Homo sapiens: one gene and its partners. The protein of the gene in region 2 purifies or fractionates together with the protein of the main gene of each other region. This does not show direct contact. Each region holds a gene or a part of one and is shown on either strand. Other genes may lie near its edges.

Region 1 (3,500 bases), on a different chromosome or scaffold from region 2:
TGCTCGGTCCAGGAGACTTGGGTCAAGCCCTAGCACTGCTACTCACTGGGGCCAGACCCTGTGCAAAGTTTACCTACTCTGAGCCTCAGGGTCCTCTCCATGAAGATGGTGACAACCACCCCCACATGGGGAAGCAAAACAAGACTCAATGTATAATAAAGGTGCTGGCACCCACAGACTGTTCACCAGCCTTTACTACTTTACACGGTAAGTGCTGGTTAAGTATTTGCTGAACTGACAAATAGTAATATAACCAAGAAACAATTGCTGCCCAATCCCATGAACACTCAGTTAAAAGTTTGGAGCCAAGATACTTCAACTGCTTAAAAACTACACAACTTCAAAACCAGCTCATTAAAAAAGAAAGCAGGAGTGGGAGGAAACCCTCAGTCCTCGGCCTGAACGCTTGGTGGCTGTCGCTTCAAGGCATGCTGCATGAGACGCATAAGCAAACGAATTTCAGATCATCAGAAAGATCTTCCTCATTTTCTTCTGGCCCTGACCCACCTTCCGACTTTCTCCTTGACACTAACTTCCTTGTCAAAGCCTCGCGTCCATTAAGCATGTCTGGTATTTGATCTCTGTACCTTCCATCCCATAACTAGAGTGCCCTTGTCACAGATCTTCATCTTTTGCAATTCTGTCTTCTAAAGTCAGAAAAACATAACATCCTCCACAAAGACTTGTGCAAGGGGCCCATACTCTGCGGCCCCAGGGAGTTTTCTCCACAGGCTGCTTCCACTGGGACTGCGTCCCTCTCACTACTCCAGCTACCCCCAGGCTTTCAGGAAGTGGGGACAGCGTGCTCCCTAGCTCCTAACCGCACTGCTCACCGAGCACAGTTGACAGTTCCGTCCCACCTATACATTACCCCATCCATGGAGAAATGCAGCGATAATCCAAGTTCACAGAGACGGTGGAGAAAGGGCTATGTGGATGCATTGAAAACAAAACACAAACCCGAGGGGCCAGGTGATCCCTTCTCCCTTCCACTCTTACTAGAAAACGGCAGCGTGTTTTCTCAGGCTCCCTGAGCTCAGAGGCTCCTGAGTTCGAGATCTGCCTAGGAACCACCTGGGGAATGAAAAGAGAAAGACGGCCTCCTGGCCCCTCGCAGAATCAGGTTCAAGAGGTCAGGCTGAGCTCAGGAGGCTGCTTTTTTTTTTTTTTTTCTGAGACAGGTCTCACTCTGTCACCCAGGCTGGAGTGCAGTGGTGCAATCTTGGCTCACTGCAACCTCTGCCTCCCAGGTTCAAGCAATTCTCATGCCTCAGCCTCCCAAGTAGCTGGGCCTGCAGTCTTGCCTACCGTGACTGGCTAATTTTTATATTTTTAGTAGAGATGGGGTTTCGCCATGTTGCCCAGGCTGGTCTTGAATTCCCGACGTCAGGTGATCCGCCCACCTTGGCCTCCCAAAGTGCTGGGATTACAGGCATAAGCCACCGCGCCTGGCCTTACTTTTCATTTTTTAAACATCCACTTCCCCGCCATATATGCTATAGCTCAAATGCGGGTGATTTAACGATTTTTAAAGAAACATCATAAAAACCAAAGTGAACAGAACACAGAGGAACAAGGCATAAAGTGACGTTCAACAGACGCAGCTCCTGGGGGAGGAGGTGGAACAGTGCTTGGACCCGCCATAGCCACGGACCCATGAGGGATGGTGCCACGCAGGGGCTGAGACCAAGGTCTGGGTTCCCAGAATGGAGCAAAAGGGAGGGCAAGCAATGTGAAGGAGACGGCGAGGACTCCTGCGCCTTCTAGAAGGTGAGGGGACCCCATTTTCATGTCCCACCACTGAGCTCTCCCAACAATCCAGCTGATGCAAGCAGCAAATTCAAGGGCTACAAAGACTAGTATGAAAAGAACTTTTTTTTTTTTTTTAAAGCATGCTTGAATTATCCGCTGTTACATTTTTAAAGGAGCCTAAATCCATGCCCACTCAGCAGTGCACACTAAGCTGCCTGCTCCAAAGCAGGGAAAGAGGACAGGTCAGGGGACAGAGCAGAAGGACCACAGACGCTCCTGCTGTGTGTCACACCCTCCAGACACCCACCGCAGGGCTTCTGGTTGGCCCCTCTCCTGAGCTGTCTCCAGGGCTGCACGCCAGCCATGGTTCCAGGCTTGTACCCAAGTGGTGGGTCCTACTGCCAATTGTCAGGCTCTAAAAATTGGAGGCCAAGCGCAGTGGCTCATGCCTGTAATCCCAAAACTTTGAGAGGCTGAGGTGGGAGGATGGCTTGAGCCCAGGAGTTTGAGAGCAGCCTAGGCAACATAGCAAGACCGTGTGTCTACAAAAATTAAAAACAAAACAAAACAAAAAAAACACCAAAACCTTAGCCAGCCATGGTGGCATGAACCTGTGGGCCCAGCTATTATGGAAGGTGGGAGGATCACTTGAGCCCAGGAGTTCAAGGCTGCAGTGAGCTGCAACTGTACCACTGCATTCCAGCCTGGGCCACAGAGCAAGGCTGTCTCAAAAGAAAAATAAAAAAGTAAAACAGTAAAAATTTGGTGTGTAAAGGGTGACTAATTCAGGAAGACTCCATTAGAAGACCCAGGAAGAGCATTCGGGTCTCTTTCTCTTAATTTAATACGAACTCCCTGAGCAAATGACATTTCTGCATATTCTTAGAACTCTAACCAACCCCAAATTACTTTTTGTGAGTAATCACAATCTGCTGCCTCAAAATGGCAACTAGAAAACAGACCACACTCAATTTCCTAGCACATTTTGGAATCCTTATATGGATGTGTATAGAAAATGATTTAGAGGGAACAGATACCTGGTCAAACAGGTAGACTGTGACATCATCGAAAAACGTGACTGCCTTCTTTTCCTTCTTCCAGTCCTCGGGCAGTGGGTCGGGGGCATTGGCCGCTGTGGGCTTCAACAGACTCCGCAGGTGCCTTCCGTCCTCGTTGCTGAGGATGATGGGCACGGGGTGCTCGGTCTCGTCCTCCGACTCGGAGCTGAGGCTATGCAGGTTGAAGGCCCGCAGGTCCTCGTCCGAGTCGTCGCTGTTTTCGTCCTCCTCGTCTGCATCCATCCCGTCCTCTGAGAGGTCGAGCATCCCTGACACCCCGAGTTTCCCCAGGTACTTCCCTTCGATGTCCGGCTCCTTCAACTTCGGGCCCTCGGAGTGGCTGGACAGGGACTTGTCCAGCGCAGAATTGGTGTAGGCAAGGAGTTCGTTCGTGTTGGTCCCCGTGGAAGCGAGGGTGCAGGGGCGATCGTCCTGTGTCTCGAAGTCATCGCCGCTGCTAAGTTCTGCATTCAGCACACTCCAGGGACTGCTGGCCTCGTCTTCCGTGGGATGCACCTGCTGGGGAACACCAGTCTGTGCTGGCTCCGGCGTGGCTCTTAATTCCAGGTCACTGGAGTTGTGCAAAGCAGACAGACAACTTTCATCTGGCTGGCTCTTTCTGGCTTCCAGGCAGCTATCCTGGGCAGCAGGACTTTGCTCGGGGAGGACTGGCTCGGGTAGGGGCTGCTC
Region 2 (3,246 bases):
GGGTAGGGATAGCATTGGGAGATATACCTAATGCTAGATGACGAGTTAGTGGGTGCAGCGCACCAGCATGTCACATGTATACATATGTAACTAACCTGCACAATGTGCGCATGTACCCTAAAACTTAAAGTATAATAAAAAAATAAAAAAAAAGAAAAGCAGGAAAAAAAAATAACATATATCCACATAAGAAATACATGAATATATAGTTAATTTATTTGTATTATTTATTTATTTATTTATTTATTGAGTTAGGGCTTCATCACCCAGGGTGGAGTACAGTAGCGCAATCACAGCTCAGTGCAGCCTCGACCTCCTGGCTCTAGCAATCTTCCCACCTCAGCCTCCTAAGTAGCTGAGACTACAGACACACACCACCGTGCCTGGCTAATTCTTGTGTTTTTTTGTAGAGATGGAGTTTTGAACATTGCCCAGGTTTATGCAGTTAATTTAAATGTTATATAAATCTCCCTCTCTCTCTCTCTTTTTTTTTTTTTTTTTTTTTTTTCCCAGAGACAAGATTTCACTCTGTTACCCAGGCTGGAGTGCAGTGGTGTAATCATAGCTCAATGCAGCCTTGAAATCCTGGGCTTAAGCTATCCTCCCACCTCAGCTTCCCTAATAACTGGGACTACAAGTATGTGGCAACATGCCTAGCTAAGTTTTTTTTATTTTTATTTTTTATTTTTGTAGAGATGAGGTCTAACTATGTTTCCAGGCTGGACTTAAACTCTGGACCTCAAGCGATCTTCCTGCCTCAGCCTCCCAAATGTTCAGATTACAAGCATGAGCCATCATGCCCAGGCTTTTTTTTTTTTTTAAATTTCTTAACATTGTCAGTTAGCAACCTCTAAATGTACAGGGCATGATTACCTAAATAACACGTATCAGAAAATAAGCATAAAATTATTTAATCATAAAAACATTTGTATGTATCTAAATATTTCTCTTATGTTTCTAAAAAAAATTGAGTTTAAAAAAGAACTTTTAAACAGTATCTAATGTGGGAACTGTACAAAAAATAAGTTATTGATGAACTCCTATAACCAAACTCTTAGCTAGGAACATAGCAAAATAAACAGCTAAGCAACTTTGAGACTGCTACTTAAAAATTTTAAAACATGGAACAAAGCATTTTTTGAGTCCAGACGTTTTAAAAAAAGTAGTGTTTGCTTATATAATTTAGCCCTTTAACTGGATAAATATACCGAAATTTCAAAATTTCTAGGCATATGTATCTTTAATTGATTGCAAATTAGTTGACATTCAAAAGTTCAACTTAATAGCATTAAGTGTAGTCATCTAACTCCATGGAGCTTAACCATTTTGAAGAATATAATATTCTTGGATCATCAAGTCCATAAATACCTACATCAAGTATATGTTAGTACCAAGCTAATGGGAGTTCATAATTTATAGTCTGGGACTTGATAAGCCAGGATTTGGGGTGGCATGATTCACATGAGTGTCTTGAGACATATCCAAGCCCAGGGCAATAAACAGAAAATTATGAAGACAAGCTCAGTTAGAGTGCACAATAAAACCCAAGTTGATAGGTCAGAAACTGGGCATGCAGATAAAAATTACAGTCTAAGAAAGGCAGTATCAGCAGCCAAAGCCCAGAAACTCTAGAAAACAAGCCAAAAGGCACAAGAATTAATGAACAGCACCAAGAAGACTTTGATCATTGGGCCCACGGTCTTTCCCAGCCAGAATACTTATTGATTACCACCTTCCTGATTCAGAATCAGTTTGCAGGTTAGTATATGCCCTGGACTGATAGGGGGATAAAAAGCAAAGATCTAGACAACACAGACCTGTTACCTCATTGCTCCCTAAGAATGGTGTATGTGGTAGGAGGGAAAAAAGCTCTTTTCAAGATGAATTGTGATGTTGGCAAACTTCCAAACTTATATGCTAGCACCAAGGCATGGAAAATATTTTCAATAATACCCAAATTTAAGAATATACCTTTGACAATCAAATACATGTGCATATGTGTGTATTAGCCTTTCAGCATCTATGTAGTTACAATTTTCACAATTATAGCTTCATCGAAATAAAGGAAAGAGAGGGAAATGTCAATGCCAGAATTCTAAACTCCAGAGTAACATCAATTAATGATGTAGTAAATGAAGATAGTCCAGACTTTGTTTTAACAAAAACTTATCCCCCAAACACTCATGATACAACACACACACACACACAAAGAAAACCTGATCCAATTATCTTAGAAAACATATAAAATTGAAACATCATTTAAGGATATCTAGTATCAGAGCAGCTTCACAAACGAGTCCCATTGCTCTTGCCACTCTGATCTGAGTTCAATTCAATGTGGTTGAAAGCAGGATTATCAGTTCCACCATCTTCCACTGGATGTGATTTATAGCTCAAAACATGCTTCTTCTAAAAGAAAATGTTAACATGGTGATTAGGGGGAGAAAAAGAAGCTCTTCATTCATGTAATTCTAAATAATTGTTTCTACTATTTTTATTTCTCTGCATCAGCTTTCTAATCTACTGAGGGAGAGAAATATATAACAGGTATACTTCCTCAGAGGATACCGAGATATTCAACAGATACAGGTTATCAGAAGATAGATACAAAATAGCCCATCAGACAATAGATATACAACAGATTTATAATATCAGAGGATAGACAGATATATAGAGAGATATAACAGATATAAGTTATCAGAGGATAGACAGATATAGAGAGATATACAACAGATACAGGTTATCAGAGGATAGACAGATATAGAGAGAGATACAATAGATATAGATTATCAGAGGATAGACAGATATAGAGAGATATACAACAGGTATAGCTCATCAGAGAATAGAGGGATATACAACAGATATAGGTTATCAGAGGATAGAGAGAGATAGATATACAACAGGTGTAGCTCATCAGAGAATAGAGGGATATACAACAGATATAGGTTATCAGAGGATAGAGAGATATACAGCAGATAAAGATCATCAAAGGAAAGAGGATATGCAACAGATATAGCTCATCAGAGGATACACAGATAAGCAATAGGTATAGCGTATCAGAGGATATGGAGCTATAAAACAGATATAGATCATCATAGGATAGAGAGCTATCCAACATATATAGATCATCAGATTATATAGGGTCTATACCTTCCTTGTCCATCACTTTTCAAGAAAGAGGTTGAGAACTAATTAGTGTTCTATCCAGGTAATAAAGCCCAGTTTCCTAACTCAAGGTAAATGAAA
Region 3 (3,500 bases), on a different chromosome or scaffold from region 2:
GTGCAGGGTTGATATGACAGCTGCTTCTAGCCTGGCCTTGAGCCTGGAGTTTGTAGGGGCCCTGGCAAATGGCATGACCCTGCCCACAGGCAGTGCAGGGGCAGGCGTGTGTTCCCTGGGCCCAAGAGTCTTGTCCCTCTAGCCAGCCCTGGGTGGGAGGTGAGTTTGGGGCTTTGCCCACACTGCAGGTCCCCTGAGAGTTGTCTCCTGTACTCTGACTGTGCATTTATTTCTGGCTCTGGTGCCAGCAAACTCCTGGGGCTGCCTGCTGCCAGGGATGCAGCCCTGGCTTCTAGCCCCATCTCAGACACTGAGTGGCCTTGGGCCAGGGTCTCTCCTGGCCCACCTGCAAAATGGCATCATAACGGCCCCAGCCACAGGATGAAGTAAGAAGTGCAAGGGAAGTTCTTGCACAGGGCGTGGTCTATGGCGTGCTCAATAACTGGGCAACTCCTGTGGCTGTTCCTAAGGCTGCACCACGGTGTTGGCCCAGGCTGGGGAATTGAGCCCACTGCAGACAGAGCCCCCTCCTGCCAACCTCCCTTTCACACCTGGCTGACCAGGTAGACCTGCCTGAGAAATCAGATACGAGCCTCCAGCAATGGTTTGGAGTCTAAGATTGCGGACAACAAGGGATGCAGTGGAGCAAAAGAACCCAGGCCTCTGAAGAAGGAGAGCTGACCCCGCTGCTGATATGCTCCTTAGGCAAGTCTTGACCCTTCTTTATGACTCAGTGTCCTCATCTGTAAAAGGGGAAGAATAATTCCTGCCTTAGTCATTGTAATGATCTTCACCCCAGCAACCACCTATTGATGTTTTTCTAATGCTTGGGGAGTGTGAATGCAGACAAGCTAGACCCATCACAGCCGTGAGGGCCCATGGCCTGGCAGGGGCACTACAGTTATCATAGGGAAGCCCAGGAGCTGTGGGGCCTCCAGGAGGGCACCTAACCCAGCCTGGGGTGGAAGTGGGGGGTCATGGAAGGCTCCCTAGAGGAGCTGATGCCTGAGCTGGGTTGTTAGTGTGATTTGGAGACGGCCAGACTATGAAGGGTAGAAAAATAAGGGAAGATATTGGGTCAGTCACTCCACTTCTCTAAGCGTCAGTTTCTTCATTTATAAAATGAGGATAATAAATACCTGTTCTGCCTAATGTATAAGCTTGTTGTAAGGCTCTAAATTGGATAAAAGTAAGGAGGCGCTTTATGAACTACAAAATGCCAGGCACCTACCTATTCATTATTCATTGTGATTTCTGGAGCCCCTAGGGGTTAGGGAAATATCAGGCCAGCATCTGGGGCTGGGAGAACTTTCAGTTGGTTTTGAAAGGGCTACAATCAAATCGGACAGAGACAGACAGCCGCCATTAACCACACACCCCTTGATTTAAGTGCTCTGGAGTATTTCTGTGCCTGGGTGTGGCTTTGTTTGGTGGGGTCCCCGAAGGCAGCCATGGCCCCATCACAGATCACAGCCCCACTCTGAGGATGAGGAGGAACAACGTCAGACCCAAAGCACTACGTCCCTGTAGAGGCCTGGGACCTGCCAGGGATAGGGATAGAGGACGGGAGCACTGTGGGGCCGCCATGAAGAAACCAGTCTGTTTAGAGAGAGGGCCACCATGTCACGGTAAGAGAAAGAGTAGTATGTGTGGAATGAGACTGTTTGGGTTTGGATATGAGAAAAGAATCTTTCCCTAGCATGCAGACATAGCAAAATATTCAGACAGACATCAAGCTAATTATCACTAGGTGGTAGAATTTTGTTTTCTTTGGTCTTTTCTACATTTAAAATGTTTTGGCTGGGCATGGTGGCTCCTCCTGGTAATCCCAGCACTTTGGGAAGCCAGGAGTTTGAGACCAGCCTGGGCAACAAAGTAAGACATTGCCTCTATTAAAAAAAAAAATAAAATAAAATAATTTTATACTTGATAGATAATTTATTTCTGTAAAGATTTTGGTGATATGTGTGCAGTCATTCCTAAATATTCAGCTTCCAGGACACCCAAGGATATCAAAATCTGTGGATATTCAAATCCCTGATATAAAATAGTATAGTGTTTACATGTAACCTACACACACCCTCCTGTATACTTTAAGTCATCTATAGATCACTTACAATGCCTAACACAATGTAAATGCTATGTAACTAGTTATTATACTGTATATACATATTTTTAAGACAGAGTCTTGCTGTGTCACCCAGGCTGGAGTGTAGTGGCACAATCTCAGCTCACTGCAAACTCCGCCTCCCGGGTTCAAGTGATTCTTGTGCCTCAGCCTCCCAAGTAGCTGGGATCACAGGCATGCACTACCACACCCAGCTAATTTTTTACATTTTTAGTAGAGATGGGGTTTCGCTATGTTGGCCAGGCTGGTCTCGAACTCTTGATCTCAAGTAATCTGCCCGCCTCAGCCTCCCAAAATACTGGGATTACAGGTGCAAGCCACCATGCCTGGCCCATTGTACTGTATTTTTAAATTTGTATTTTTTAATTGTTGTATTGTTATTTTTCCTTAATTTTTTCGAATATTTTCCATCTGAGGTTGGTTGAATCTACAGATGCAGGACCCACAGATACAGAGGGCCAACTATGTATGCAATACAAGTTATAATGATATTTAGATAATAAAATACTCAGGCCGGTCTGACATCAGCAGGCTGCAGGGATGAAGTCAGCACTCACAGCATAAGGACTTTGGTAAGGCCTGGATGACATCCCCAGTGCTGGCCTTCGGAACAGTTGGGAGCAGAGTCCAAGGATGGCTTGATGGAGTCACACTGGAGGAGATGTCTGTGGGGGTTTCTGAAGGTGGGAACTAGGACTCTTTTCTTGGGACAAAGACTTGGGGTTTTGGGTGGCTGCAAGCACAGTAGCATTGTGACCAAACTGTCCAACTGTGGAACCTACCACATCAGTAGCAACAGAGGGTTGGAGGCAGAGGTGAGGGTCCTGCTGAAGTTTGGGCCGCTTTCTGAGCAAGACTAGGACAGCTGAGACAGATCCAGAGGGGCGCCAGGCCGGGGAAGGGCCTGAGCCTTCAAATTCCGTGAAGCTCTGGAGATCCAGGGTGAATGCTAGGCCTCAATAGACCCTTGTCCCTTAACGATTTGTGTTCTTGGTCTTTGATCCCATCTCACAGGCGTTTCAGCCTCTTTGCAAGGGAAGTAAAGAATCTAAGCTACTGCGGTATTTCATTCAAGGCAGGGCTTATCTGTTGTGAGATGTACCCTTATTTTAGAATCCATTAAGAAAGAAAAAGCAACAGAAACTGTAAGTTGCATCCCAGTTTCAGAGATGTTAAAATGTAAAAAGCTGTCTTGGAATCATTTGACATGTGGCGGGTCCCCAATTAGACTCTTAGTGTGCATTCACTCATGGAATCTTCACCATCGCATTGTAGCTAGATAGTCTTGTCCTCTTTTTACAGATAAGGAGGCAGGAGCCCAGAGAGGTTGAGTAAATTTGCAAGGTCACGCAGCCAGCAAGAGGCAAAGCTG
Region 4 (3,500 bases), on a different chromosome or scaffold from region 2:
TTTTGCTGCTAGGAAGTCTGATGTCAACCTGGGTATTTTTTGTTTGTTCTAAGTAACAGATTTTTGTGGGTAGGAGGTATGGAAAAGGTTGGACCCCTAAACATTTTGAATGTTCTTTAAAGTCTGTAGATTTGCTGGGATATGTTTTAAAGTTGACTGTTCTGGGTCAATTTTCCCAGACACACAGTGGGCTCTTTCCATATTATATCCAAGTCTTTTATTTCTAGAATGTTTTCTGGTGTTAAACACATTAATACTGTCCCATATTTTATTTATTTTGTCTTTATTTCTTTGGGCATCTCCAAATATATGTAAGTTTTCTTTGCCTAACTTCCATATTAATTTCCATCTAATTCTTTTTACTACTTTCTATATTTAGTTTTCATTCTCTTAGCTGTTTCATGCCTTTCCTCAATGCCGAATATATTTTCAGCTCAATCTATTGTTCTTTAGCTAACTTGTAATTGAGTCTTTATACGAAAATTTTGGCTTTTTCTTCAATTTCTTTTCTGAGTTTAGTAAACTTTCATTTCACAGCATGCAGTTTTTTATCCATTTTGGCTTTAAGTTTTTGAATTTCTGATTTAAGGTGTTTTGTCTTATCTGCAAATGTTTAAGGACATTTAATTCAGATTGGTAGATTGTGTAACAATTTTCTTCTGCTTCATGACTGTTTTTTGAGGGAGAATATTCATTACGTGAAATGTTTTGATTTTCATTTTCTATTTTCTTCCTGTAGTAGTTGTGTACAAATGTCAGCTTCCATGTTTGGTTCATTTTTGTAAGGTCTTATTTTTTCTCAATCAGCAATAATAGGTGTGAAGGTTTGGGGAGGCTTACTAAATTTCTTAGATTAAGAGCACCATCTTTTATTAGTGAAGTGGTTATTTTGGAAGAGGGAAGAAGGTGTATATTTGATTTTGTGATTCTCATTCCCATTTCTCGTGTCTTTCTTTCCTTCACCACCAGTCCTCTAAAGGGTACCTCCTCCTTTTAGGCCATGCCCATCTCCCCGAGAAGCAATGCTTTCCCAAGGTTACTACCTATACTCCTATATATCTGAAGTCTCTTATTTTTGATCCTCCAAGTAAACAGAGTTCTAATCTACCACATCTCAGACCTGTTCTCAGTATGTCTTTGATGAGGGTAGGTCCTTCTCCTTCTGGGGGGTTACTTTATCTGTGGTATTATTGCTAGGCCCCTGCTCCATCTTCTCTTTTTACAGTCTCCTCTGTGATGCTGGCTCCGCTGGATTTGGTGTTTATATGCCCATTGCCATGCCATTTGAACCTTGCAGTATTCTGTCTACCAAATGAGATTGTTGTGAGAATATCTGCATTCATTGTTTGTACAGGGTTTCTTTGTGTGTTTGTTTTTGCTTTTGAGAATGTGTGGAGAGATTCAGATTTAGGCAGTTGGGCTTATTCTACAGGAGCCCAGAACTCCTCAGAAAGTCTGACTTTAGACAGACCTTCTAGGAAAAAAAAAAAAAAAAAAAGCAAACCTAACAATGTCTCTTACATTATCTCATCTACATGGAAAGGATTCAAAGGATAGTGGAGAGGTACAAACCGAGAAAAACTTGAGGAAGGCTCAAAACTCTTGCTGCAAGTAAAATGGGGTAGCTTACCTGAGTAAGGTTCCATTGCAGCTGCTGAGCTGGCTGGACCCCATACACAGTCTGGGGCATAGCTGCCATGCCTGCCATGTAGCCAGCCTGCTGGGTGGTCATCATTCCATTCGGCACACCCATCATTGATGCCTGCATGCCACCCATATAGCCTGCAGGCATGGCCATGGGGGCAACCATCCCAGAAGCTCCTGGCTGAGCAACCATGCCTACTGGTGGAGGCATCATGCTCCCCATTATGCTGTTAGGAGGTGTAACCCCGGGGAAGCTGGGGTAGGCTGTGGGATATGCCATCTGAGCGGGAGCCATGAACATTGCTGCCAAGAAAACACACATACAGGTTGGTTAAAGAGGGAAAAACATAAAGTCAGCCCGAACTCTCCCTGGCTAACCCTTTCCAGCTGGAATTTCTCAGGATTACTCTACTCACAATGCTCTTTACACAGCAAAGTAGTTAGAGTCCCTACGAGGCCTGCTATAGCTTACCAATGGGCTGCTGACCGAGCCATTTTCCCTTTAGGGTCCAGATCCAGACCTTGAGCTAGACTTCACCGAATTGTGACCCCAGACTCCACAGAAGTATGACTCTGAGTTACATTAATTTCCATCTGCTGATACGTTGGTCATGTTCAGGTTTGTTTGGTGTATGACATCCTGGCCCCCAAAGCAACTGTCCTCTGTCACAATAAATAATTCCTGCATGGAAGCCCTCATGTCTCTACCTGGCACATGGCCATGACACCCATGAAATCTACCTTGAGTAGGCATTTGAGGCGTCTGGGATCCATACAGTGAAAGAATGGAGTCTTTAGAGAGCTGTTTCTTGCCTATTTCTTCTGATTTGCTCCCTGGCTCCGGAAACAGGTTCAGATTTTCAGGAACAGAGCCGGCACTCCCTGCAGTTGGCATGGAACCTACAACCTTAGGGCAAAGAGGGCGGGGGGAGAATTGAAATGGTTCTCATGGGGGTCTCTTTAAGGGTCTCCCTTCCCTCTCTGCTGCTCCTAACATCTGCAATAAGAATTCATGGCTCAAGTTAATAGCTTCCTAACATTTTTACCATTCAACTATCTGAACACACCTGATAATTAAGCTCTGTTACAATTCTTTCCTTTCACCAAAACATGTGATTTGGTAGGAACAAACAAACAAAACAACCCACAAATGATGCAGCAGAGGGAACTGAGTTTAGACCCCAGTGTAGCCATTTACTAGTATAACCACAGGCTAGTCACATAACTTTTACAAACTAATGTCTCCACATCTGTAAAATTTCCACTTTGCAGGTTTGTGGTGAAGGAGTGAAATTATTAATGAAATATACAAAATGATATACAAAAACCACCTCACACTGTGCCTGAGACATAGCAGGCGTTTCACGAATGGTAGCCATTAAAGGTTTCAAGTCTTTCCTACCTACAATTTTCTGGCAGTAACTCAGGCCGAGGAGCTAGCCTCAAGTATCAGCCTTCACAGTATCACACACTTTCCAGAGAAGCAACTCAAATGGCCCACCCTTTTTGAGCAGGAGAAAAAAAGGCATGAACAGCAATCTTAGACTGTGACAGAAATGACACAATGTTAAGGGAAGAATGAAGAATCAAGAAAACCAAAGTCCAACTCCACCAAGGAAGCATGACGTGGTTCCATGATTAAGATATCAAAATCACCCATTTCAGAATGTTCTTTAATCCTGAGGAGCCCACAAGACTCACCTTTCTGGAACCGGAAGAAGAAGGGGATGGAACAGAGGCCAACAGATCTAAATCCTTCTCTAGGGTATTGCTGGTCTTACTATTTGCAATGGAGCAGGCCACAGGAGCATCTAGAAAGAGAGATCGAAGTTAAGATGCAGCACTGCTTATTAAGC
Region 5 (3,500 bases), on a different chromosome or scaffold from region 2:
TCAAAACTAAATATTAGTTTATACTCACTTCCTTTCACGTATTTTAAAAGCAGTTTGCAAGCAATATTGTAATAAGTGCTATGAGCTTAGTTGAATTCTGCCCTAACTTAATCTCATCTTGTTCCTAAGGACATCCAGTCACTAGAGTAACTCAGGGAATAATTTTGCATTTGATAGGCATCTTTTGTTCATTTTTTTAAATCATCCAGACTGGAACTTCTAAATCAGTGGTTCTCAACTGGGGGCCTTTTGTCCATAGGGGGCATTTGACAATGTCTGGACATTTTTTTATTGCTGAAACTAAGGAGGTGGTACTGACATCTAATAGGAAAAGGCCAGGAATGCTGGTAAACATCGTATAATGCCATAGTCCCCTACAGCGAAGTATTATCTGGCACAAAATTTCAATAGTGCCAAAGTTGAGAAACAATATTCAAAATATGTAAGGGTTACAGTCCTTTGAGTTGTCAAAAGTAATTACTCTGATAATAGATATTCCAATAGATAGGTTAAAATTGTTTATTTGCTTGAAACCTGTATTTTAAACAGAATTTCAAACTTTTCTCTGTGTCTCTTCTAGCAGCTCCTCGTATGCAACTTGCTGTATTTTGCTTTCTCACACATTCCTTTTCTGCCTTTCTTTCCTACCACCCATCTCCTTTCTGTCTCTGTTGAGTCTCGTTCTCTCATGTGTTTTTTCCCTCCCCACGCATCTCAACCACTTTCTCTTCTTCTGCATACATCTTCCCCTACCTCTTCCACTTCAGTGCAGAAGCTGAGCATTATGAAACAATGAAAAGGGGGTTGAAGTATGACAGATCTAATTTTGAATCCCGGTTTTACTCTTTATTAGCCCCCGTGATCCTGATTACTTAATCCGTCAGAGATTCAATTTCCTCATTTGTAATGGGTATGATGCTACCCACCTCTTAAAGTTTTTATGAGGATTCAGTCTCATTTTGTATGTAAAATGCCTAACACATGGAGGCACTCAATAAATATTTGCTCCTTATTTCTCCCTCACCTTTTCTATTTTTCTTCTTTTTCTCTGGTTTTCCTCCCCTTATTTCCCTCAACTAACACATCATAGAACTGTGTTTTTAGTACATGTAATTCTCAAATTTATAGAATATTTATTGAACAAAGTGTTAAGATTGTGAAACAATGTATCTAATGTTTAGAATAGACAATCTCTAAAGAAAAAATTAAACCTGTCAACCTAAATTATGTTGTTTTTTATGTAGATCTCTAGTTGGTTTCTTTTCCCCCTTGTTGCTCACTAATCCTTGAGAGGAAAAATACCCACCTCCTCTGTACAAACTATTCTCAGTTTCCTATTCAAAAGAAGTGATAAGGCAAGATTAAAAGGAAAAACTCAAAGTACCATGACATCAGTCTTGCTGTAACAGAAATATGTAGAAATTCTGTGTCTCTATTCATGTGTTCTTTAAGACTTAGCAACACTGTCTTCATTTTCTGTCTTTTCTGGAGTCATAATCTTATCTTCCAGTAACAGCCACCTATCTCCGAAAACCTTGTTCCTACTAGTTATGTTTTATTTCATTGTGTTTATGTGTGTTTGAGAGAATTAATAAGACATTTGAAATGTAGCTTCTTTTGAGCAGATAAACCGAGTTTCTAACCAACCTGATGCAGAAGATACTTTCTATCTTCTGATCTTTTTCCCCATACCCAGTGTTTCCCCCGGCACCGCCCCCAGCCATTTAACTTCATTGGCAGCTGAGTCTTATCTTGGCATAGGAAGAGGAAGTGATTGGCTTTATTTCTTGCTGTTTTCTTAGGGCAACAACTGCAGCTTATCAGAGTTCTAATCAAAAGGAAAGCATGGTACAAATGTTTTTAACTTTATGGAAAATAAAGGATAAAATTATCATTAATACTTAATATCTAAACATAATGTTAAGAAAGTTAAATTCCCATTGTGGTTTTTACAGTATTTATTTTCATGTAACTTTTTAAATATCTGTGTTTGAGAATTTCTTTTATTTCCTCTTCCAATTAATCCAAAATAATTTAATTTTTGTTTTGTATCCTCTTAATTAAATTTTACTTGAATGTCTGCAGATGGCCTACAGAGGTAGGGAATTTAAGTTTGATGTTGCATGATTGCAAATTCCATCAGTCTGACTGAATTGAGGATTTCTTATTCCATGAGTTTTAGAGGTAATAACAGCAGAAGCGAAATTTTCACTGCCACAAATTGAGAATTGAGAAGGAAAGTCATTTTTCAGGAGAGATATTTGATTTTGACTACTTTTTTCCCCTAAGTTTGATACTTTATTTTTTAAAATTTATTTCTTATTTTTTTATTTTTGAGACAGAGTCCTTTGTTGCCCAAGCAGGAGTGCAATGGTAGGATCTCAGCTCACTGCAACCTCCACTTCCCAGGTTCAAGCAATTCTTGTGCCTCAGGCTACCGAGTTCCTGGGACTACAGGTGCATACTACCATGCCTGGCTAATTTTTGTATTTTTAGTAGAGATGGAGTTTTGCCGTGTTGCCCAGGCTGGTTATGAACTTCTGGCCTCAAGCAATTTCCCTGCCTTGGCCTTCCGAAGTGCTGGGATTACAGGCATGAGCCACCGTGCCCAGCCTGGCTACTTTTAATGGATAAGTTTACCCATCTTGTAGTAGCATCTAGCATATTGTCCTGCATATGCAAGGTACTAAGTAATGTCACCAGAGATTTCATATTTTTTTTTAAAAAAGTAGATTCTTGAAAAAGTATAAAATGTAGAAATGTCTTAACCTGCAGTTTGAAATCAGAAAGAGGCTTGAGCAGGGTGTGGTGGGTCATGCCTGTAATCCCAGCACTTTGGGAGGCTGAGGTGGGCGGGTCACCTGAGGCCAGGAGTTCGAGACCAGCCTGGCCAACATGGCGAAACCCCGCCTCTCCAAAAAGATACAAAAATCAGCCGGGTATGGTGGGGAATACCTGTAATCCCAGCTACTCAGGAGGCTGAGGTAGAAGAATCGCTTGAACCCAGGAGGCAGAGGTTGCAGTGAGCCAAGATCGCAAACTGCACTCCAGCCTGGGCGACAGAGCAAAACTCCGTCTGCGCCCACCACCCTCCCCCGCCACAAAAAAAGAGGCTTGAGTTAGGCATATTCTTGAGTTCGTGGCCCACAGTTATATATCATTAGTTCATGAAAAGCCCTTCTCTTATTTAATTATTTTTCCATTGCATAACCATTTCTTTCTCTACAATAGGCAGCTGTTCCAATACGTCTGTTAGATATTACTGAAATTGAGTGTATCTTTTTGACTACCTGGTGGTTTCATTTGTGTGTCTGCAATTATGACTTATAATTTTAAAAATATTGAAGCCCGGTAGTTAAAATGAAAAATGAATGCAAATTTTGGTATTTTTCTGTTTATAATCATTTCAAAGACTAAGTTCTAGTTGATATTCTCATTGTTTTTATCCATCCCCTCAAAAAAATCTTTTTTCTTTTATTGGGTCTATGTAGTTTAGTGGG
Region 6 (3,500 bases), on a different chromosome or scaffold from region 2:
TGAAAAGAAAGAATGTCATTGAGTTTGACTGACTGGAATATCTCTGTAGATTTATCTATATTAAATGAATTATTCAATGTGTGTAGTGCTGTCATATTTTAAACTATTTAGAAACCTAAGAAATAAGTACTGTTTTGTTGCAGATATATATATTGGCACATCTAAAGGCAAGAATAGTAGAATTAAAAGTAACATAGGCAACAGTTCTAAGGGCCTATTTAAGCTCACTGGAGTACTCCATTTGAAAACCTACAACTGTGAAAGTCCTTTGCATTTGAACATACATTTTTATTTATATGGTAAAACCTCAAATCTAAACTTTAAAAATATCTAGCTTAATCTGAAGGGAAAACTTTTTCATTAGTACTACTTTATATTTTTCATTTCTAATCTGTACTCAAGATTAAATATTAAAAAATAATGTGTATTCATTTATTGTACATCTCAGTGGCTTACTGCCTAATAAAATTTTCTGTATCTTGTAATTACCTGTTGTTTTTCTAAAGCATTTTTTGGAGCCCAGTTGAATTCCTTTATCCATGTGATTATGTACTCATACTATGGGTTAACTGCATTTGGCCCATGGATTCAGAAATATCTTTGGTGGAAACGATACCTGACTATGTTGCAACTGGTGAGTTAAATGCTTCCAAAGTTTCTTCTGGTAAAATACTGAAATTGTTTAAATTTGATTAATTTTAAAGTGCAATGTCATTTTAGACAATTTTCTATTATGAAATTAACTTTATCCTCCAGCTATATCGCAGTTATGCCCACTTGACTCTAGATGACCTATTCATAGACTTATTGGTCCCAGCAAATCTTTGTTTTTATAATATGCTTAAAAGACTAGACATAGCCCTTACTCCTCTAAGGAAAACATTCTCTAAAGATGTTTGTGGAAAGGATGATTAAAGATCTAAGCACGCTACAAAGTACGTAGTATGAATAGAAAAATAATATGTATTTTTTCCCTACAGGTGATTTTCTTAACTTAAAATTTTATTACCTTTCTTCATCTTGTCCTTGCTTAAAAATTTTGTTTTTTATTTCATTTTTCAGTCTTTAACATATCTCATATATTTAGACTAAACAGCTGAAAAGAAAGCACATAGCCAAGGAAGGGGTGGGGCAAAGGAAGGGAATAAGGGCAAGAGAACTCCTTGTAATTCTCTAAAACACTGTCCTTAAGAGAGCAGAGACAGATATTTTCAAATGGTGGTCTTTAGTCCAGACAGTTTTCAGCACATCCCGCTAGTAAGACTGTTTGTGGCAATCTGAGTGTGTGCATTAGTGTACCTTTCAGATGCTAGGCACTAGCCTGTAATCAAACTGGAAATTCAAAGCCAACCTGGTAACTATTTTTCAAGCTTTAGAATTTATTATAATTTGCTTTAATCATAGCATGTGCACAATTTTATCAGTGGAATCACATTTGGAAATAATATTCATCTTTGCTTTAAGTTGCTAAACAGCTGGCTAACCAAACAGGAAGCACAACTTTTGGGAAATGCTGGGTGCGAAGGATTCATTTGTAACCGGAGTGGTATAGGAAGCTTCCTCCAGTTTTTGTGTAAAAGCTGTTAACACAGTTTGTGTAATTCATTTCTCTCAGTAAGTAGTAAATGGACCTAAGAAAATGAAGAGGTGATCAAAATCATGTGAATTAGTCCTATCTGGTTTGTTGGAGCCTACACCTGGCTCTCCTTGAGTGATGCCATACCCAATCACACCCTTATACACACCCTTTTTGGTGATGCAGCTTCTAAAAACCATTGTGAAACCACAAGTTCTTCAAATTAAAATATTTGCCAAGGAAAATTATAAAAGTTTAATATAGTATAAATTTTTAGCTTACATGGCATACATTATTTTAATATTTAAAATAAGTAATACTGATTATTTTAATCAATAATTAATATTTTAAGAACAATGCTATCCTTAAAAGAGAAACCACAATTGTCCATTTCAAACAGGATGTTGAGTTTGTATTTCCAAGCCAGAAGTTCCCACAACAGTTAGTCATATAAGTTAATTGTATAAAAAGTTAACCCTTGTTAACATTATGTCTTGACCCATTCTTTTATTGATACATCAGAATCTATTTCATTTTAATCATCTCACTTTGGGCTTTTTTCCTTTTAAAAATTCTTAAAGTTGAAAGTGATTCTTTTTGTATTTATTCTGAAATATCTACTAAATTTTATCCAAATATTATTTTTTTCTTTTTTTGGGACGGAGTTTTGCTCTTGTTGCCCAAGTTGGAGTGCAATGGTGCAGTCTGGGCTCACTGTAACTTCCGCCTCCTGGGTTCAAGCTATTCTTCTGCTTCAGCCTCCTGAGTAGCTGGGATTACAGTCATGGACCACCACACCTGGCTAATTTTTTGTATTTTTAGTAGAAATGGGGTTTTACCATGTTGGCCAGGCTGGTCTTGAACTCCTGACCTCAGTTGATCCACCCGCCTCGGCCTCCCAGAGTGCTGGGATTGCAGGCATGAGCCATCGCACCTGGCCATCAAAATATTAGTTTTTAAAGGATAGTGTTCGTTCAAATAAAAATTTACCTGCCTACTATCTGTAAGAAATAAATGAGCCATTTTGATAAGCTCATTTTAAGTATGTGTATCTGCTTGCTGACAATTTGATAGAAAGAAACCAATGTAAAATGTGGGAGGAAAACAAAATTGAAGAGCCTACAATACTATTACTTTACTCTCCTAGGCCATTGATTCCCTTTCATCAGATAACATTATTCAACACATATTCATTGATCCTGATGCTGTGCTGAGGACTCAAGAATCACCGATGGGCAAGACAAAGCCCTGCCTTCTAGAGTCATTTTCTAGTGGAAAGATAGGCAATAAAGAAATAACAAATACAGAAGACAATTTCAAATAGGTATAATTCTCCTTAAAAAAAATGCAGAAAGCTCTTTGGTTAATGGGATTGGGAGGGCCAATTGAAATTGAAGTCTTGTCAGAGAGTCCTTACTGAGGAGATGGCATTTGAGTTGTGAATGAGGAGCTAGCCATGGGAGCCAGAAAACAATAAATTTTGCACAGTGTGGCAAAATTTGGGCCTGTGATAGCTATGTAGAAGATGCCGATGTTGTTAAAAGTTGTTTACTATTCAGATTAAATGTTTTGTGCTGTCATTTCTGTTTTTCAGATTCAATTCCATGTGACCATTGGGCACACGGCACTGTCTCTTTACACTGACTGCCCCTTCCCCAAATGGATGCACTGGGCTCTAATTGCCTATGCAATCAGCTTCATATTTCTCTTTCTTAACTTCTACATTCGGACATACAAAGAGCCTAAGAAACCAAAAGCTGGAAAAACAGCCATGAATGGTATTTCAGCAAATGGTGTGAGCAAATCAGAAAAACAACTCATGATAGAAAATGGAAAAAAGCAGAAAAATGGAAAAGCAAAAGGAGATTAAATTGAACTGGGCCTTAACTGTTGTTGACAGTGAGGAAAAACTCCCATATCATAT
Region 7 (3,500 bases), on a different chromosome or scaffold from region 2:
CCCAACTAGCTGTCACTCCCCATCTCCCCAGATCCCCTCCCCTCATCCTGGAAAGCAGGCCTGGGACAGTCAGAAGCTCAGTGATTGCAGGCGCCTGATGGCATTTGTGAGGAGGGCTCAGGCCTTTCCCCTCAGGGTGGTCTCTGGCGTAGGGGGCTGAAGGTGGGCAGGGGCCTTGGCAAGGCCTGCCACCATGTCCCAATGCCTGCTGCCGCTTGTTGAGCACTGCAGACATGGCCCAGAGTCTGCCTGGGGAGCTAGGGAGTGAACCCAGTGCCAGGTGGACTGTGTGGCTCCGCTGCAGTACCAGGTACTTAGGACAGCTCTAGGAGGGACTGCACGGTGGGCAAGTGTGCTCCCTGCAGAGGGGACTCTAACCCTGTGACCTCAGCCTCCCTGGACCTCAGTTCCTTCACTGGTTAGATTGGGGTGAGAATGGAACCTACCTCCCAGGATTGCTGTGGAGATGGCAGTTGGTGGGTGTCATTGATGTAGAGCAGCATCTGGCACATGGTGGGCGCTGTTTTCATATAGCTTTGCTGTCGATATTGCCGATGTTATTGTTACTGCTTGTGTTCGTTTGTGTGTTAGCACCTTCATCCTCTGAGGTTGTTTTGACCAGCCCCAAGGGATGCTGTTGAGCTTGGCCAGAGTACCCAAGTTTGACCTCTGCACAGACCTTACTACCCACCCAGCTAAGCTGCACAGAGGAACAAACGTGCCACAGTGATCAGAATTGGGACACTGTGAATGGGGCATGGGGCACGTATTCCCGGCAAAGAGAACAGCATGAGCAGGGCCCTGGAGATAGCTAGAGGTAGTGCCTGGCAGCTGCAGGTGTGACTGGCAGTGATGGAGCAGGAGCACAGGGTCTGGGAAGGACAGCAGGGCCCAGCTGGGGGCCATTCAACCTGGAGCTCAAGACAAGCCAGCAGCAAGGGAGCAAGGTCAAGGTGAGGCCCTGCCTCCACTCCCTCTGGCCCCCAGCCAGGGAGTTGGGTGGCCCCCCTGGTCCTTCTTTACACAGACTCCCTGGGTAATACAGGCTCCTGGGCTGCACTCCTCAAGATCTGGCTCTGTTGTCTGGGATGGGACCTGGGAGTCTGCTTTTTTTTTTTTTTTTTAGACCAAGTTTCGCTCTTGTTGCCCAGGCTGGAGCGCAATGGCACAATCTCGGCTCACTGCAACCTCCACCTCCCAGGTTCAAGCGATTCTTCTGCCTCAGCCTCCCGAGCCGCTGGGATTACAGGCACCTGCCACCACGCCTGGCTAGTTTTTGTTATTTTTAGAAGAGATGGGGTTTCAACATGTTGGCCAGGCTGGTCTCGAACTCCTGACCTCAGGTGATCCACCTGCCTCAGCCTCCCAAAGTGCTGGGATTACAGGCATGAGCCACCACTCCCGGCGGAATCTGCTTTTTTAAACACCTCCCCAAGGCATTGTCCCGCAGGGTCTCAGCCACATTTTGAGAATGGCAGGGTGGACCAGGCATCATGGGTTCCCTCCACCCTCTTGCCCTTCTGAGTCCTGGCTACATGATCTTAGATCAATACTTTATTTTTCTGAGCCTCAATGTCCTCATCTGTAGAATGGGAACAGAAACAGTATCTGCTGTGACTAATACAGGAGAGAATGCAGCAAATCTCAGTACCAGCTAAAGAGAAATATGGGCCAGGGCTGTACCAGGCCAGGGAAAAGCTTGAGTCAGTATGGGCGTGTGTGGGTGTGGGTGTGTGAGATACGCCGCAGGTCTCCCAGATTCATGAGTCAGTACGCGTGTGTGTTACACTGTAGGTCTCCTAGATTCTAGCCTTCTAGCCTCCATCTGCTCAGGGCAGACCTGAGCGCAGTGAGCAGAGGGCGGGGCATTGGGCCATGTCCAGAAAGCTGAAGTGTGACGCTGTGCTCCTGCTTAGGCCCCTGGTTGCTAAGGCTCAGTGTGGGGAGAAGAAGGGCTGCTACCCTGTTGGATGGAGTATGCAGGGCATCTTCCTGCCAGCTCTGCCCAGGGCACCATATTGGCATGCACCAGCTGCACAGGTTGGCGAGCCTATGTATGTGAGAACAGGGTGGCTCCTTCATGGCTGGCCAAGTCTCCAGCCAAGACCCCCCAGGACAGTGGGGAGCCATGGTGGGCAGCAGAGCTTGTGGGAGGCAAAGGCCTGCAGAGAGTCTGCCATGGGGCACAGGTGCTCTAGGTTACCTTGACCACTGTGGCCCTGCCAGCTGCATTCCTGGTAGCTCAACTGCCCACCAGGCCCAGCTGCCTCCATCTCACGGTGCAGCTGGTGGGAAGGTTAGTTCTGCCTCCTGGGCTACAGGTGTCTGGGCATTTGTTCTGTGCCTGTGGAGCCCCTCTGGGCCTGCCCCCTGACCACCTGTGCCCTCTGTTCCAGGTGCTGGGGAGTCAGGGAAGAGCACCATCGTCAAGCAGATGAAGTAAGTGCTGTATTCCAGAGGCAGTGCTCAAACTCCAGCTTCCCCTCTTCACCCTCTGGGCCTGCACTGCCCCCGACTACAGGCCCAGCCAGTCTTAGCCAGGCCCAGAATCTTCTGAGAAGCAGAAGGACCCTCAGGTCCCAGTGGGTCAGGGGCAGTTTTCCCTTCTCTGAAGCAGGTCCCAGTAGCCCCAGGCAGCCGTGGGAACTCCCAGTGCCCAGGGGACACTAACCTTCCTGGTCCCTGGCTATCAGGATCATCCACGAGGATGGCTACTCCGAGGAGGAATGCCGGCAGTACCGGGCGGTTGTCTACAGCAACACCATCCAGTCCATCATGGCCATTGTCAAAGCCATGGGCAACCTGCAGATCGACTTTGCCGACCCCTCCAGAGCGGTATGTGCCCTCCGCCCCACCCTCTCCCACCTCCCAAAAGGTTTCGGGGTGGCTGGTTGTGGTGGCTCATGCCTATAAATCCCAGCACTTTGGGACGCCGAGGCGGGTGGATCACCTGAGGTCAGGACCAGCCTGGCCAACTTGGTGAAACCGCGTCTCTACTAAAAATACAAAAATTAGCCGAGCATGGTGGCACGTGCCTGTAATCCCAGCTACTTGGGAGGCTGAAGCAGGAGAATTGCTTGAACCCGGGAGGCAGAGGATGCAGTGAGCCAAGATCGCCCCATTGCACTCTAGCCTTGGTGACAGAGCTAGACTCCGTCACAGAAAAAAGTAAACAACAACAACAAAAAGGTTTTAGGGCAAGTCTCATCCTAGGGAATCCAAGAATACCCTAGCCTGGGCCCCATTCCAGAGGTCTCCCTGCCTCTGGCAGAGTGGGGGTACATTCCTTCAACTGCCTGACCACCCGCCACTGTGCCCAGGACGACGCCAGGCAGCTATTTGCACTGTCCTGCACCGCCGAGGAGCAAGGCGTGCTCCCTGATGACCTGTCCGGCGTCATCCGGAGGCTCTGGGCTGACCATGGTGTGCAGGCCTGCTTTGGCCGCTCAAGGGAATACCAGCTCAACGACTCAGCTGCCTAGTGAGTGCTCTGAGGGGCT

What was found.
Region 1: the proteins of SLC5A8 (region 2) and LMTK2 purify together in Homo sapiens (affinity purification with mass spectrometry; one large-scale study listed by BioGRID and IntAct). This does not show direct contact.
Region 3: the proteins of SLC5A8 (region 2) and CORO2A purify together in Homo sapiens (affinity purification with mass spectrometry; 2 studies listed by BioGRID and IntAct, with this or other methods). This does not show direct contact.
Region 4: the proteins of SLC5A8 (region 2) and SMAP2 purify together in Homo sapiens (affinity purification with mass spectrometry; one large-scale study listed by BioGRID and IntAct). This does not show direct contact.
Region 5: the proteins of SLC5A8 (region 2) and FAM241A purify together in Homo sapiens (affinity purification with mass spectrometry; one large-scale study listed by BioGRID and IntAct). This does not show direct contact.
Region 6: the proteins of SLC5A8 (region 2) and ELOVL4 purify together in Homo sapiens (affinity purification with mass spectrometry; one large-scale study listed by BioGRID and IntAct). This does not show direct contact.
Region 7: the proteins of SLC5A8 (region 2) and GNAI2 purify together in Homo sapiens (affinity purification with mass spectrometry; one large-scale study listed by BioGRID and IntAct). This does not show direct contact.

What each region holds. Positions count from the first base shown.
Region 1 is NC_000007.14:98,193,862-98,197,361, reverse strand, and holds part of LMTK2 (serine/threonine-protein kinase LMTK2 precursor), read right to left. Parts: coding exon 2,790-3,500; intron 1-2,789. UniProt on the Homo sapiens protein: Phosphorylates PPP1C, phosphorylase b and CFTR.
Region 2 is NC_000012.12:101,154,993-101,158,238, forward strand, and holds the end of SLC5A8 (sodium-coupled monocarboxylate transporter 1), read right to left. Parts: intron 2,410-3,246; coding exon 2,287-2,409; 3' UTR 501-2,286; downstream 1-500. UniProt on the Homo sapiens protein: Acts as an electrogenic sodium (Na(+)) and chloride (Cl-)-dependent sodium-coupled solute transporter, including transport of monocarboxylates (short-chain fatty acids including L-lactate, D-lactate, pyruvate, acetate, propionate, valerate and butyrate), mocarboxylate drugs (nicotinate, benzoate, salicylate and 5-aminosalicylate) and ketone bodies (beta-D-hydroxybutyrate, acetoacetate and alpha-ketoisocaproate), with a Na(+):substrate stoichiometry of between 4:1 and 2:1.
Region 3 is NC_000009.12:98,182,638-98,186,137, reverse strand, and holds part of CORO2A (coronin-2A), read left to right. Parts: intron 1-448; exon of another isoform or gene 449-705; intron 706-3,500.
Region 4 is NC_000001.11:40,415,227-40,418,726, reverse strand, and holds part of SMAP2 (stromal membrane-associated protein 2), read right to left. Parts: intron 3,456-3,500; coding exon 3,346-3,455; intron 2,552-3,345; coding exon 2,386-2,551; intron 1,948-2,385; coding exon 1,631-1,947; intron 1-1,630.
Region 5 is NC_000004.12:112,151,954-112,155,453, forward strand, and holds part of FAM241A (uncharacterized protein FAM241A), read left to right. Parts: intron 1-3,500.
Region 6 is NC_000006.12:79,916,554-79,920,053, reverse strand, and holds part of ELOVL4 (very long chain fatty acid elongase 4), read left to right. Parts: intron 1-506; coding exon 507-634; intron 635-3,170; coding exon 3,171-3,446; 3' UTR 3,447-3,500. UniProt on the Homo sapiens protein: Catalyzes the first and rate-limiting reaction of the four reactions that constitute the long-chain fatty acids elongation cycle.
Region 7 is NC_000003.12:50,249,704-50,253,203, forward strand, and holds part of GNAI2 (guanine nucleotide-binding protein G(i) subunit alpha-2), read left to right. Parts: intron 1-1,916; exon of another isoform or gene 1,917-1,970; coding exon of another isoform or gene 1,971-2,040; intron 2,041-2,396; coding exon 2,397-2,439; intron 2,440-2,693; coding exon 2,694-2,835; intron 2,836-3,320; coding exon 3,321-3,481; intron 3,482-3,500. UniProt on the Homo sapiens protein: Guanine nucleotide-binding proteins (G proteins) are involved as modulators or transducers in various transmembrane signaling systems.